Regions from separate parts of the Homo sapiens genome. Here region 2 is linked to region 1. Evidence: fine-mapped expression QTL. A gene starts in region 1. The other region holds a variant in brackets. All regions are shown on one strand. Distances are between the middles of the regions.

Region 1 (5,377 bases):
CTCATGCCTGTAATCCCAGCACTTTGGGAGGCCAAGGCAGGCGGATCACCTGAGGTCAGGAGTTCAAGACCAGCCTGACCAACAGAGTGAAGCCCTGTCTCTACTAAAAATACAAAAATTAGCTGGGCATGGTGGCACCTGCCTGTAATCCCAGCTACTTGGGAGGCTGAGGCAGGAGAATTGCTTGAACCCGGGAGGCGGAGGTTGCAGTGAGCCGAGATCACGCCATTGCACTCCAGCCTGGGCAACAAGAGTGAAACTCCATCTTAAAAAAAGAAAAAGAAAAAGAAAAAAATTATGAGGTATCACTTTAGCCCCACCTGAATAGCAAAAAGTTGAAGAGAATGAAAACAGCTACTAGTTAATGGGAATATTGGGGTGAAGTTTCCCCCCAGATACTGTCTTTCTTCATAAGTAGAAATGTGATAGTGCCTCTTTTGGAGATCAACTTTGCTCTACCTTTTAAAATGAAAAAATCTACGTACTCTTCCCTTCATGAGTCCCTCTCCTTGGAATCTATCTGATAGAAGCAAGAGTCCATGGGCGTTTAATGACCATAGATTCAATATTATTCATGGCACCCGTGTTCCAAGTAGCCACCCAAACCCCCAACTAAAATCCAAACAAAAGGAAAACAAGTACACAAACAAAAACCAGAAAACGACCGGGAACTAAGCTAATAAAAGGGTTAGATCTGTTTCAGAAGACTTGAAGAGATTTCTAGAATATGCTTCTTATTTCTTCCCTGCCTCCCTGGTTTCTAGACAAGGTGGCTTACACCAGGTGGTTTTCAGGGGTTACCTGGAATGGGAAGGAGAGTTGGTGCAGATAAAGAGACATGCAGAAGGGAAGCAGGAAGGTAAGACAGCAAAAGACTGATTTGGGAGATATAAAAATATCTCCCAAAATAAAAATATCTCATTTATGTTAAATATGTGTATGTCTAAAACTTATGTATATGCAAAATATTGTCAACAAGTGGCTGATGGGATCATCTCAGGGTGGTGGGATTTTAAATGGTTTTTTATTTTAATTAATTAATTATTTCATAAAATTCAGCTCCTGTGGGAAGATGAACTTTTAAGTTATTTCCTACACTTTTATACACTGTTCAAATTGTTCCAAAGAGCAAGTGTTAATTATATAAACTGAAACAGCAATAAAGCTGTTTACACAGTGAGGAGGAAAAAAAAAAACAACTTATCAAGGATCCCTTATCCATGCACCCACCTGGTGATTTCTTTAAAACAAAATTGTAACCAGCCATGTCCTGGAGCAGACACGGTCCTTTATTTTACTATGTGATAAAGGAGGTAGTGCTTCTTTTGTAAATTCGAGCTCTTGCTCTGAGGAGGGATCCTTGACATTCTGAGAACTGTTAAATACGTATACATGCCTCGTTTCTAAACCTGAAATCATTTAACAGATTTGGTTATTGTCTGCTCCATTAATTGTGCTATTCTCCCATTGCAGACCAGTAAGCCAGGGCTGAGGGGATCTAAAGCTCCTCCCAGCATCACACAACTGAGAGCTCTCCCAGACACATCCCCTGGGAGCTAGTAGATAGACTGGAATAAAAATTTTGAGCCTTCACAGTCTCCCAAGCCAATCTTTTCATCCTACTATAGTGTAAGCTTCCATGCAAAGCCACCCTCCCCTCCACTGTTCTCTGGAGCAGAGCAGGTCTACAGGGTCAGGCTGCCTGGCTAGGCCCCTCTGTGAATGCCCCTTGATTAGAGAACCACTATTATTCTCCTCCTCATAGTCCATGGAAAATAAATACAGGAAAGTCAGCAAACTTTCAAGAATGATGATGCTGGCTGTTTTCAGGTCCCAGTCATCCCTGCAGCCTGGCCGTGCCTTCTGTAAGCCTGTTTCTTCATAAGCTCTCTGCCAGCAAAACTCCTGCAATAGAAAACCATCTGGAGAAGAGCCAGGCAAAGGCCTTGATATCGGTGTTCTGGGCGCTGGGATTGATCATGCAGAGACCAGTGCAGCACCTAAACAGGGACCATTTCCTCCAGCCTGCCCACAGCTGCTGCCCTCGGGGCTTGCTCTGACACCCAATTTTTAAAAGCAGGCTCTTAGAATAATAAAACCAGAGAATCTTTGAATACAGAACCATTGACTGTTAGAATCATAAACTATTGAGAGAAGAACCATGAAATTCTAGAATCTTGGCGTTGGAAGTTACCTCCCAGGTAAATGGGTTCTGTCTCCCCACCTAAGCAACAGGTATTTCTTCTGAGGAAACTGGGTGCAGCAATGATGTGGCCACAACACCTTGTAGATGTGGGAAGATGTCCACGGTGGCCACAGTAAGAAGCCTTTTTGTGGTCTCTACCTTCTGAAATAGTACATGACGCAAGAAAATGTCCATGCTTGTCACGACAAAAACTACTATTCCCTGGAAGTCTGTGGTACTTTTGAACTCTCTTAAAACTTTACCCTCCTTGAAGAAGGTTTCAGGAGAAAGAGGAGGCCCTGGAAACTCTTGATAATGCCCTCAGCACTGCTTCCAAGGAGCGCCAGTCATATAGACCATCCCTGAGAGAAACAAGAGAAAACGGGAAATTCTGACTTCTCTCTACTTCAGAACTATGAGCTATTTTAGTTGGCATTTTTGCCCCCATCCAACTTTTTTTGGCTTCGCTATCTAAAACAAATAAATAAAACAGCTGATGCTGTGAACTGTAAAGAATCTGAGCTAATTTGGTCCTCCCCTTTCTCCCATCCATTGCAGACTTCGGCCATAGCGCGTGAGCATTAGAAAACAACTTGTCGCCCACTCAACTCTCTTTCTCATTCCTAAAGGAAAATATTTATATTACGCCACAGAACGGGTTTCCATGACAGTGACGACTGTAACACTGTTGCCTTAGCAACCACTTGAGTCCATCTTGAATGATCTGAATCCCCTTCACAGACAAATAAGGAAAATCTGTCAAAAGTGCCATTCCGCTGGTGGGAAGTCCTGGAAGACGGTTTTCTCGCGCCCTCGTTCTCCCTCCAGGTCCGTCCCCCCGGTCCCCCAGTACATCTCCCCTAACGCTCACTCGGGAACTTTCCATATTTGCTACTCTTTCAAGAGCTTGCCCTCGCCCTTCTCCTAGTGATTAGACCCTAATCCACCATGGAGACGCTGCCCAGAGCTCTGCAAAGGGTTAAGGACTGGCAGGCAGAGCCGTGCCAAAGACAACAAGAGACAGAATAAATACACAGATCATCCTTTTTATAGGGCCTTGCTCTTGCCCCTGGAGACTGGGTGCACGTTTTTCTCTATCAGTCCAGAGCAACTCTGAGGGGAGAGTTTTATAGGAAAGACCAGTCCTCCTTGAGGTTCAGCTCTCAGTCACAACAAGTGGGCAGGTTGCCTCTCGGGCCTCAGTTTCCTCATCTGTACGATAAAGGGGTTGAGTGGAGGGTCCTTCTGGCTCTTACACTCTAGGAATTTGGGGGAATCAAGAATGTATCATCTGGCCGGGCGCGGTGGCTCACGCCTGTAATTCCAGCCCTTTGGGAGGCCGAGGTGGATGGATCACTTGAGATCAGGAATTCCAGACTAGCCTGGCCAACATGGTGAAACCCCGACTCTACTAAAAATACAAAAATTAGCAAGGCATGGTGGTGGATGCCTGTAATCCCAGCTATGTGGGCAGCTGAGGCAGGAGGATCGCTTGAACCCGGGAGGCAGAAGTTGAGAGGTTGCAGTGAGCTGAGATTGAGCCACTGCACTCCAGCCTGGGCAACAAAGCAAGATTCTGTCTCAAAAAAAAAAAAAAAAAAGAATGTATCATCTTCTTTCTCCCAAAGTCATCAGATTTCTTGTAGCATGCCTACAGAGAACTCAGATAGGACATCAGGACAAGTGACATCCTGGAGTGACATGGAGCACGCCAGCATTCACAGGGAGGTGCATCTTCCCCCATCACACGTGTGGGCACAGGTGAAAAGCACCGTCGGCATCAGCGGCAGTGGTGCTATCAGCACCGTAAGCACACACTGCAGACCAGGCCACTCCAACTCAACATCTTTTACTGGAGAAGGTGCTCCTGCAGGCTGATTAAATCAATAAATGAGCCCTCTCAGGGAAGCAGCGACTTTTCTCCTGGAGGAAATGTTTTCAATGCAATTCATATCCATCTCTGGAGTTTTCTTTGCCTCTTTCCTTATTGAAAAACAGCTTGAAAAGCTAGAAATGCTGACCTGTTTTCTTTCATTCATCTTCCTGCTTCTTACTGACAGGGAGAAAGCTGTTTTAAGAGAGAAAAAGAGCAGTTTAAATCGTTTTTATAATTTTACTAGCCGGCAAGAAAATCACTTTGCTGGATTTGTATGGAGACTAGGAGAAATGGAACAAAACATGGGTGGAGGGCCGGGGAGAAAAGAAAAAGAAGAAGCTGGTGCCACTTTAGGAGGAAGCTGAAATACCTCTTCACCAAAGCCCTTCTTGGAAAGTGTAATATCTACAAAAGTCACTTCAGACCTTTTCAGACTTCTGACCTAACTGAGAGGCAGGATGGAGTGCAGGAGTTTAGAGTGGGCTTTGGAGTCATACGAAAGTGGGAATGCACTTTGCTCCCACATCCCGTCTTGCCTGCTGGCCACAGCTGATTAGAGTAGGCAGGAGTAGATCCCTGACCTTAAGACAAACTAAACACGGCCTGACCTGATCTGACCCAAAAGGATTGGCTGGGTCAGCTGGTTTTCTTTCCTTAGGAGCCTGAATAGGAAGTAAAGAAAGAATTCAGCCTGGCGCGGTGGCTCATGCCTGTAATCCCAGCACTTTGGGAGGCTGAGTTGGGTGGATCACTTGAGCTCAGAGGTTCAAGACCAGCCTGGGCAACATGGTGAAACCCTGTCTCTACAAAAAATACAAAAAATTAGGTGAGCATGGTGGTGTGTGCCTGTAGTCCCAGCTACTTGGGAGGCTGAGGTGGGAGTATTCCTTGAGCCTGTGAGGTCGAAGCTGCAGTGAGCCAAGAACGTGCCACTGCACTCCAGCCTGGGTGACAATGTGAGACCCTGTCTAAACAAAACAAAACGAAAATAAAGCAAAGGAATTCCCCAGTCATTGGAGGACAGGTCAGGTCAATAGTGAAAGAACTGAAAAAGCACAACACTGGTAGTCATGGAATAAGATTCATCTCATCCAGACCATATCGTGTTCTGCATTTTTGTGAATCTGTTACCAATCTTTAAACTTTGGGATATTTTGCATAAAAACCCAGCTCTTTGGCTTCTCTTAAAAAGCCAGAAGCTCTGTAACACAGAGTCAGCATGTCCTGGCTGCAATCAGCTGGAGCTAGGGCCTGCAGCTGCCCGCTTTTCCTGGGCCATATGTTCTCCCATCCACCAGCCTCCACCCTGCCTTGTT
Region 2 (5,377 bases), 38 kb before region 1:
GGCGCGCCATTGTGGCTGCACGTTGGAGTCACCTGGGTGTTTCCAAAACACACCGACACTCAGTCTCCCCACCAGGTTTCTGATTTCACCGTGCAGGGTGGGTTTAGGCACCCCGGCTGATTCTCATTTGCAGCCCAGTTTGAAAAGAGCATGACCGAGAAAGGGAAGTCAGGCTGATGTCTTCTCAGCTCCAGGCAAATTTGAGGACTACTACTCACTCACTCTTGCCTCATTTTCTGAATTTCTCTTCTACCTTCTTCCTTGGGTCCTTGTCCTTCACTTCTGGGTATTTTTATGATTTTTAGGTTTTCCATGGTAGCACCGCTATTTTGCCTGACTATTCTAACCCCGAAAGTGTTTCAAGATCTCATTAAAATGGAAGGAATCTGATCAGACTAATTCGCAGTAAGATATAAATGATCGATGACCCAAAACCCCACCTAAGGGTATTTGATTTTAAATTTTTTTTCTAACCTTAAAAAAAGAATAATTTCACACTTATGGAAAAGTTACAAAAGAGATTTTCTAGATACTCTGTTTTAAAACATATCAGTGTTATTCTGTCTCTTCACACATACACACTCATATGTATACACGCATATTTATTTTTCGGAACCACTCAGAACTAAGTTGCAAGCATATCCCCAAATACTTCTGTGTGCATCTCTGCTATGGTTTGAATGTGCCTCCCGCCCCCCAATTCATGTGTTGAAATTTAGTTGTCATTGTGATGGTATTAAGAGGTTAGGAAATCCAATTAAAATTCCTATGTTGATTGGACGTGGAGTCTAGGTAATTAGGATTAGATAAAGTCATCAGGGCAGGGCCCCCGTGATGGGACTGGTAGCTTTATAAAGAGAGGAAGACACACTTGTGCTGACACTTGCATGCACTTGCCTCCATGCCATGTGATGCCCTGCACACTTCCGGACTCTGCAGACAGTCACCACCAGCAAGAAGGCCCTCACCACATGTGGCCCCTACACCTTGGAATTCCCAACCTCCAGGACTATGAGAAATACATTTCTTTTCTTTGTGAATTACCCAGTCTCTGGCATTCAGTGATAGCAACTGAAAATGGACTGAGACAAGCTACTAAGAACAAGAGCACTCTCTTGCATAGCCTCAATACGCTTGGCCAAAATCAGTACCTTAATGTTTACACAACACACTTCTCTAATCTACAGCCTCCACTCAACTTTTGCTGATTATCCCAATATTTTTTATAGAAATACAACAACAAGAAGACTGGGCTCGGTGGTTCACACCTGTAATCCCAGCACTTTGGGAGGCCGAGGCAGGTGGATCACCTGAGGTCAGGAGTTTGAGACCAGCCTAGCCAACATGGTAAAACCCCTGTCTCTACTAGAAATACAAAAATTAGCCGGGCGTGGTGGTGCATGCCTGTAGTCCCAGCTACTTGGGAAGCTGAGGCAGGAGAATCACTTGAACCTGGGAGGTGGAGGTGGCAGTGAGCCAAGTTCGCACCACTGCACTCCAGCCTGGGTGACAGAGCAAGACTCCGTCTCTCTCAAAAGAAAATAAAGAAAGAAAGAAATAACAACAACAATGCCATCTTTCCTTTACCCCCTTTCCTTTCTGGTTTGGGATGCAATACACAACCACACACTGCATTCATTTGTTACGTCTCCTGTCTTGGTCCTGAGACTGGGCACTTCACATGTGTTTGGCAGGAATGCCACGGAAGCAGTGCCGTGTCCTCGGTCCATCCTATCAGGTGGCACACAGTGCCCACTTGACCCAAGCAGTGCTGTTAGCTTCTGTTACCAGGTGAAGATGGTTTCTGCCAGGTTTCTCATAAAGTTAGTAAGAATTTTGTCAGTAATTATTAAGAATTGTATAAGGATACACTGTGAGGCCATATAAATATTCTGACCCTCATTAAACTTTCACTCATTTGTTCCAGCATCCATTGATGATTTTTAGCTGAATCCATGATTACTACAATGGTGGCCAAATGGTGATTTTCTAACTTTATCATTTTCTTCTACACCTATTAGATGGATTTCTACTATAAAAGAGAGCTTTCCCTTCTCCTCAGTTTTACTTATTTATATGAACATAGACTCATGACTTGCTATTCTATTCAATAGGGTGCAATAAATTGGTAGCATTATTTATTTTGATGCCCAAATTGATGCAGGTTTGACCAAAAACAATCCCTTCAAGCTGGCTCAGAATTTTGACTTTGAAAAGAGGCCAATTTTTTATTCAAATGTGTCTCCACATAGTAGGAGTAAGGTCTTGGGAGTAAACAGAGTGGAAATTTTCGGCAGCACGCCTGGTGATGATGAGCAAAGTGGCCTTTACCGTGTCAGCGCTCCCTCAACTGTTCCAGCCTCTCGAAGCTTCTTCCTCCTTCC[C/T]TGTCCTAAAATGGAATTAAGTGCTGGATCTTGGAGGCACCTTAGAGATGATCAGGTCCCTGGTTCCCAGACACTGATTGGCAAGGGCTGTGTGACTGCAACCCCTGGAGAGGTAGTTTCTCAGAATAGGTGCCCCCACCGTCACGCCAAACATTTCGGGTTCAAAAGCCCGACCTGGTGGGATGAGCCCTTTATCTGTGTATGAAGCCACCCAGATGACTCCTGTGCTTAGCCAAAACCCACCCTACTCCCATAAATACACGCACCCCGCTTTCTTTTGCAGGTGAGAAACCAGTGACTCAGAGAGGGGAATCCGCATGCTCTAGGTCATGCTGTGAATGTCAGAACTGGGAAGTTTCTTGCTCCGTTAACACTGGCTTTTTGCCTGCATTGTGCTATCTCATTACAGTTCTTTGAAAGCTCTGAAGTTTTTGGCTCCTAACAATTGTTCTCACAGCAGTAAGAATGAGGAATTTACCTGTAGGATGGACGATGCTTAAGTCAGGTGTTTGTAAACCAGGGGCTGTCTCTGCTCATTTACTTGATACTTACATGCAGTATGTTGGTTTACTTTACGCTGATCCCCAGAGTTTCATCATTTAAACTGAAAAGAATAATAATACTTATTTATATGGCCGCTATGAGCATTAATTTTAGAGATACTGTAAGCCTGGCACTTTCGCTAACTAAATATGCATTTACCACTCCCCCACCCCAAAGACACACACACACACACACACACACACACACACACACATACACACTCCCCTAATTTCACTTAAGGAAGCACTTTCTGTTACCATTTCTCTCTCTCTTACCTACTGACCCCTCACTGACAATAACAGCAGTATGCCCTTTTGCCATTGAGAAAGACAGCTGTAAGATAAACAGATGCCATTGCATTATACATACATGTCCCCCTGAGACCATTCTGCACTGTAGCCACCACCTCGTCCCCTGGGCTATAGAAATCTGACTATTAAACAAAACTAACCTTTAAACATGTAAACTGTATCCACCCGATAACAATTCAGCCATACTTCCTTACAAATCTAGACCGGACCCAATATGTTAAAGGCTTTCTGGCACTACAGTGAAGGAAGGGAACATCTTTCAAACATGTTTATAAATACTAATAACAGTACAGGGTGCTCAAGATCTCAAGCAATCCACTGCTGACTTTTTCATTAGGTGGTCATTTGTTGAACTTCAGCTCCCTTCCAATACCTTCCATTCATTCTCTTCATCAAGGACATCTGCAGTGCACGGCAGCATCAGGGGGCAGGCCTCCTGAGCCCCCAGCAGGATTCCATTTCTCCACCTTCCACTGCCATCCGACTTGCTGATGCCCAGGCCCCCAGAGGAGGAAGGGCTATCCTGTTGTTATGAGAACAAATGAAGCTAAGAAGTGGTTTGAGGTGGGAACAGCCAGGCCCTACAGACAGAGAGAGTGGTTAATAAATCTGTATTGTACTGAATTAAATAGAGCATCTTAAGCTACCTACTGGGGATGGAACAATGCAGAGACTCCTGTGTTTTTTAGTAGCATTAGCAAAAGAGCTTAGCATCGCTGCTAATTAAAATCACATCCACGTTTGGCTTCGGAATGCATAAGGCATCACAATAACTCAGCACTGAAGGGGCTTATAGTGGTTTTAAAATAAATCCACACATTCTTTGCAGTGTGCTCCCTTCAATGCAGCCTCATTCCTCTCCTCTTGAATGTAGGCTATTCTGAGTGACTCACTTATCAATAGAATGTAGTGAAAACGGTGGAATATGACTTTCAAAGATATGCTGTTGAAGACACTGCGCTTCTGTCTTGCTCTCTCTTTCGGATCACGTGCTCTTCAGGGAGCCAGCTGCCATGTCATGCAGACACTCAAGCAGCCCTATGGAGAAGCCACATGGAGAGGGGCTGAGGCCTGTTTCCCACAGCCATGTGAGTGGGCCATTCCGGAAGCAGATCATCCAGCCCTCGCCAAGCTGACAGACGACTGCATCCCCAGCCAACATCTAGACTGGAGCCTCACGAGAGACCAACCCGGAGACCCCACCCAGCTAAGCCACTCCAGAATCCCTGACCCCAAACATTGTGACATGATAAAAATGTGTTGTTTAAGCTTTTAAGTTGTGTGGTATTCTGTTATGTAGCAATAGATAGTTAATACCGGGCTCTTAATCTTTTCCATAGCAACCGTGACAAAAGGTAGTGCAGGCTCAGCTTGCACCTCCCATTGACAGAGAGCTTGCTTCTTCACAGGGCAGCCCCTTCTGTTGCTTGGCCAGTCTGTTACCAGTCCTGCTCACACCGAGCTGGTTTTGGCCTCTCTGTAATTTCCATCCCTGGTTCAAGATGTGCCTTGTGAAGCAAAGGTGAAGCTTCTCCTCTTTTATGTGACTGCCCTTCAGACAGCTGCAATTCGTGATTATGCCGGCCTCCTGTGTGCTCTTGTGCTGGCTAAAGAGAGAAGAAGGGGAGGCAGCACCTTTTGAGGGGCCCGGGAGAAGAGACATAGTCTGTCTATAGGAAAACAAAACAAAACAAAACAAAACAACAAAACAAAAAACTGCTTTATGCTCTCTTTTGTACTCTCACAACATTTTTGGTCACCAAAATGTGTGGGGTTTTCCCCCACATCAAGCAATTCTCTAATTCTCTGTAGATTTAATTGTAATTGAATTACAATTTAATTCAATTCTGACAGTAGCTAGAGTTAGTGCAGACCCCACAGGTTAAGATCCCAGTCCCACAAGACCAATTCTCACTTCAGACATCAATCGCGAGTAGTAGGTCCCCAGGTTACCCGCAACTTCTCTCTGACCTGGCTACACGGAAGGTTCTCGCAGCTGCCTCATTGGGTTTAATCGTTTGCTAGAATGGCTCACAGAACTCAGGGAAACACTCTACTTACATGTTTGGAAGATGTTCTTGCCTGTTTCACTGTAGTGCCACAAAGCCTTTACAATTTTGGATGGATTCTAGATGTGTG

Evidence for each region. PIP is the estimated chance that this variant, and not a neighbour inherited with it, causes the effect.
Region 2: its variant is fine-mapped to the expression of LINC02052 in testis (GTEx, PIP above 0.99).

The regions. Positions count from the first base shown.
Region 1 is chr3:186,490,882-186,496,258 of GRCh38, forward strand. It overlaps LINC02052 (long intergenic non-protein coding RNA 2052), which reads right to left and starts at 2,780. Exons shown (of 8, transcript NR_033844.1): 1 at 2,225-2,780; 2 at 1,231-1,409. RefSeq lists an enhancer at 4,459-4,753.
Region 2 is chr3:186,452,786-186,458,162 of GRCh38, forward strand. LINC02052 (long intergenic non-protein coding RNA 2052) reads right to left here. Exons shown (of 8, transcript NR_033844.1): 4 at 4,556-4,845; 5 at 3,379-3,819; 6 at 3,203-3,260; 7 at 2,651-2,988; 8 at 2,196-2,389. Among named protein-coding and RNA genes, the nearest start is that of LINC02020, 15 kb to the left of the region's middle. The variant C/T (reference allele first, on the strand shown) is at 2,385.